Regions from separate parts of the Homo sapiens genome. Here region 2 is linked to region 1. Evidence: fine-mapped expression QTL. Tissue or cell type: minor salivary gland. Region 1 holds a variant in brackets; the other region holds the start of a gene. All regions are shown on one strand. Distances are between the middles of the regions.

Evidence for each region. PIP is the estimated chance that this variant, and not a neighbour inherited with it, causes the effect.
Region 2: NRAP starts here. The variant in region 1 is fine-mapped to the expression of NRAP in minor salivary gland (GTEx, PIP above 0.99).

What each region holds. Positions count from the first base shown.
Region 1 is chr10:114,094,085-114,096,775 of GRCh38, reverse strand. No RefSeq gene overlaps it. Among named protein-coding and RNA genes, the nearest start is that of ADRB1, 52 kb to the right of the region's middle. The variant CCT/T (reference allele first, on the strand shown) is at 1,404.
Region 2 is chr10:113,662,370-113,665,060 of GRCh38, reverse strand. NRAP (nebulin related anchoring protein) reads left to right here and starts at 1,020. Exons shown (of 42, transcript NM_198060.4): 1 at 1,020-1,250; 2 at 1,615-1,709; 3 at 2,295-2,382. The coding sequence starts at 1,179.

The sequences.
Region 1 (2,691 bases):
CAAAATAATACCATCGTGCACCACTGACCTCTGTCTCTTGGCTTTTGAAATTTCAAAGCTGAATAAGAAGCATAATGCCCACCCCGCCTACCTCAGCTATGGGAACCCCTTTTCTGTTGGGCTCTACTTCATGTGATAGGGGTGAAAGAAGATGAGAAACACAGCTCTGTACCCCCATGGGCATCCAACAGCAACATGGTGACACCTTCATTTCTTTTTGGTGCCAAGTCCTGAGTTTGAAGTCTTATTCTTCAAGAGGAATCCCAAGAAGAAATAAGTCAGCAGCTACAAAATGAATACTGCAATACATTGAGGTAGACACCAGCCTACAGTCCTAAGGCAGGAAGGGGCAAAAAGAGCAACAGGAAAGTACAGCTTGCTACATGAAAAAAGCAATCTCAAAAGAATGGGAAGATGGACCTCAGGCATTTAAGGTTTTACCTCGGAACGCCAGACTATTCTGTATCTTGGAAACACTCTTTCTTTTTCTTTGGACTTCAATCTTTATTTCCAAATCAGGACTGGAAATGGGAATTATGAAGCCAAAAATATCAAACAGCCTCAGATCCTTTGGTTAAAAACATCAGCGGCAACACACGACTGAGCTTACCTCCCCCATTCTTGACATTTCATTATAAGAGGAAAACCACAAGCCGAACTTAGCAAAGGCTGTTATAATTAACTCACAAGCCCTCGTGTGCTTACTAGTGGTTTTTAAGTTTCTGAGGCTTAGATGTAATGTAAGATGTGTTATTTAATATGCATTATGGAGGGAGGAAACAAAGACACATTTTTATTCTCTTTTGCTATACAGCAGCCTGGTTGGTTCCATTCCATCCATTTAATTTACTGTTTCCAGGCACAAGGGAATTGTTTCCATGTGACACTTATCTATATAAATTTGGGATAAACGGAATTAACGTGTCAATTGAGGTTCTTGATGGCAAATAACAGAGACCAAGTCTGGCCCTGTGAGGCAAAAAAGGAATTTATTAAAGTGTATTAGGTGACTCAGAATCCCAGGAGGCTGCAGAGTGAAGCTGGGAGGCTGTGTATCCCGCGACCATTCCGCAAATCAGTTCTAGCGGTGGTCCGGTGGATGGATACCCTCCTGTCTTTGCTCTGGGCAGAGATGCTGCAGCTTGCCCTGAGAGCACCCTGACATTGCACAAGCTGCTGGGTCTCCTGTAAACTGGCTGTAGTGGCCACCATCCTGCCAGTGCGCCCACAAGTCCTAACTGGGCTCCCCTGGTTCTCATTTGGTGCCCCCTTCTCATGTTCCTCCTCTAAAGATCTCTACTCGAATCCCGCTCCCTGCCCATTTTGGTTACCCTTACCCAAAGGAAGGGGGCTCACACTCTAGAAACACACACACACACACACACACACACACACACACACCC[CCT/T]GTACCCCAGTGGCTTTTGCCCAGGTTGGAGTCATTTTATCCGCAGTGGCCCCTGGGGCTTCATGGTCAGTGATGTTGAGAGAGGTGGTCCAGACCCTGTGGTGATCAAGTTCCCCAGGCAGGGTCTCCTTGTTCCCAATCCTGCCGTGGACTTGGAAGGCACTCCTGATTCTTTACTTAACCATTTAGAGCAAGCTCACACATGTCTCCAAAGGACAGATGTCAAGCCTTGGGAGACAGTATATTCTGAACTCATATCAGGAAAGAAGAGTCTTATATTCATTGCAAGGTTCTTTTCTGACATGGTCTGTGAGCCTCATTTTTATGCAGAGTGGTTACCTTGGAATCCCCCAAGACAGTTTCAGGCCCACACTATTTTCTATTGGCTACTCCCATTGGTGGACCTGGCCAGGGCTCCTGGCTGACTGTGTATGGCAAGATCCTTCCCCATCTCCCTCTTCGGGGTGGGGGATAGTACAGGGCCCGGTGCTGATGCTTCCCATCACCATGTGATGTCACTCCTCATGTGCGGGTGGGGCAAGGCCATATACAGAACATTTGAGGTGGTGGAATTACCAGCTTGAGAATTAACCGTTCCTACTTTTCTCAAGTTGTAAGCTCTACGACAAAGAAAAAGAGGTAGCTTTTTTCCCTTCTTATCCCAAATGAGGAGCCAGGTTCCGTGTCCTGGATGTCTGAACTTCTTTTATCTCCAAGGAGCATTAGATATCTTTGTTTTCAACAGTCGGAGTTCCTGTGTGAGACAGTACACAACCCACTGGAACGACAGGGCTCTGTGGGGTGAAGAGGAGGACAAAGGGAGCAGAGCCCCAAGGCTGGTGGGAGGGCAGGAGAGGAGACTCTGGAACAGTGCAGGGCACTCCCACGGGCAGGCACTACCTCAAGGAAGGTGACAACTTGGATAATGGCTGCCTGCCTGGAGGCCAGTGAAGGACAGGGTACTGATCTGTCATGCAGGGCCCTGATAGCCAAGGCAAGTGTCTCCCAGTACCGAACCTAGAATGCAGGGGCTGGCAAACTTGGTATATTAGTCCGTTCTCACATTGCTGATAAAGACATACCCGAGACTGGGTAATTTATAAAGGAAAAAGGTTTAATGGAGTCACAGTTCCACATGGCTGGGGAGGCCTCACAATCATGGCAGAAGGCAAAGAGAAGCAAAGGCACATCTTACATGGCAGCAGGCAAGAGAGCTTGTGCAGGGAAACTCCCATTTATAAAACCATCACATCTCATGAGACTTATTCACTATCACGAGAACAGTA
Region 2 (2,691 bases), 430 kb after region 1:
CATTATCTAGACTTCATACCTGGCCTCTATAGGCATTTTGGTGTGAGTATTAAATTTATTTCATTAATCCAATAAATCTTTATTAAGCACCTTTTATTGGCAGACCTTGTTCTAGGCATGGGGGATATAGAAGTGGCAAAAAGGACCAAAGATCCTGTTTAGACAGAACTCATATTTTGATGGGAGAGACACAATTTTTAAAAATAGAAACATTAACATGTAATATGTCCAGCTGTGATTACCACTATGAAGACCATCAAGCAGGCTAAGAGTAATGGAAGATAATGAGATAGGAGTGGGGACAGGTGAGGTGCCATTTTGTATCAGGTATTTCTATAAGGTGATAAGGTGACATTTCAGCAGAGACTGAAGGCAATGAGAGGCTTCCCAAAGCCAGGAAGAGAGATTCTGTCTTCATATCACCTCTTTTAAGGCCTGTGAGGCAAGGGAACAAGCACAAAGGCCTTCTTGGAACATTCTAGAATAAAATACAGAGGCCAAAACACCAAGAGTTCTCATTAGTTTTTAGTTTTGCGTTCCAGTAGAAGCTAAACACAAACTAACACCTTATTAAGTTTTTAGTTTAACTGTTGTAAACGCTTTGGGTAGGTAAAGTTAAAATTCAAGTGTGATATTTATCCATTTAAAGGAGTGAATCAATCCTATTTTATTTTCTATATTTTTGGGAGCTGGCCTTTCTGCTTTAGTCATAGGACGCATAGAGCAAGCTTTTCTAATTTGATTGTTGGATGACGGTGTGGCATCTTCCTTTAGGTTCTTTTCTTGGGTCATGATCACAGCTAGTGCTAAACCACTCCATGCTGCCTGATCATACACCAGGGTTTGGTTATCCACATAAACATGATGCTGTTGTGAGTTCATTTTTCTATTTAGAGAAGCATGTCAGCTAGAAATACTTCCACCTTATTTCCCAGACACATGCGTGCTGAGTGAGTGGCCAAAATAGCCCCTTGAGTAAGTGGCAGCTTTAAAAACCATCCAACTGCTGACTTCAAACTAGAAGGTCAGCAAAGGAAAGTGGAAGTTGGATTCTGAAAGATCGAGGTGCCCACAGGAATTTTATGGTCGTCGGATTTTGAAGACTTGAACTAGACTGGGGGTTCTCCTTGCATTTCTTGCCTGTTGCCTATCTTTGTCCTCTCTCTTCCGGCTTCGAGATGAATGTGCAGCCCTGTTCTAGGTGTGGGTATGGGGTTTATCCTGCCGAGAAGATCAGCTGTATAGATCAGGTCAGTAGACATTTCTTGGCTTTTGTGAATAATAACAAACACAGGAAATTGACCTTCTCACATATGGACATAGGTAAATATGGAAATTTAATTTTCAGTTAAATTGTTTTGAACCACAAGAAAAAGTTATATTTTCTCACCTTTATTTAGTTCTACACATTTCTATTTCTTCTGTGTTGTCTCAAAAAAAAAAAGTTATCCATTTATTTAACCGTGAGTGTTGTTATAGCTGTGTGTGTGGATTTTAATTTTTTTAAAATCAGCATTTTATCCTCGAAGTTCATTTTTTTACCCTAAAATATATAAGAACCTTGAGTCTGGGGGGAAAAGGGTAATTGCTAAATCTTCTCTATATGATTTCTAGATATGGCATAAAGCCTGTTTTCACTGTGAAGTTTGCAAGATGATGCTGTCTGTTAATAACTTTGTGAGTCACCAGAAAAAGCCGTACTGTCACGCGTAAGTGTTTGATGCCCCCACCACTACCTCTTGAGTTTTATTTGTTTTTCAACAAGGAGCCAACTAAACGTTCAAATCATATAACCCAGGGTTAAATCCAAGAAATATCTTCTCCCAAAGTGTTCCCTTGTATCCTGTCATTAAAGAGACCTAAGGTGGGATTTTATGCAATGGACACAAAACTTCAAATTTCTTCCAAGTAAAAGATCAAATATATCCACTATAACCTCATGTCAAATTATTAAATACTGTGCAGAACAATGTAATGGCCATAAATATGCATATAGAGCTTTGAAGTATTTTCTTTTAAATAATTTCAGAATCCTTTTTTACTTTCTTCAGAAAGTTTTCAAGTGATCATTTCCAGTTAAATTTAGGCTTTCAGTTATATATGTCGATTTTATTTGATTTGCTTTTTTTTCTGTAAGATGCATTGCCTGGAAAATCACGAACTTAATTTTTAAGTTTTACATTTATTGATTTTTTAAAAATAACTGTTATTATTTAAAAATAATTTTAAGAATAGTCCCTCAATCATTTGGATAAAGTACATTTCTAATTTTGATTTATACCTATTTGTTGTAGCCATAACCCTAAGAACAACACTTTCACCAGTGTCTATCACACTCCATTAAATCTAAATGTGAGGACATTTCCAGAGGCCATCAGTGGGGTAAGTTATTTAATTTTCAGTGGGATGGAGGGTATGGAGAATGATTGGTTACTGGGTAGAAACATGCAAATAGATAAAAGGAATATATTCTAGCCAGGCACAGTGGCTCACACCTACAATTCCAACACTTTGGGAGGCCAAAGCGGGCAGATGGTTTGAGCTTGGGAGTTAGAGACTAGCCTGGGCAACATAGTGAGACCCTGTCTTTATTTCTTAAAAAGTTAAATAAATAAAAGAAGGAACATGTTGTAATGTCCTATAGCAGACAGAGTAGGATGACCACAATTAACAACAATGTATCATATATTT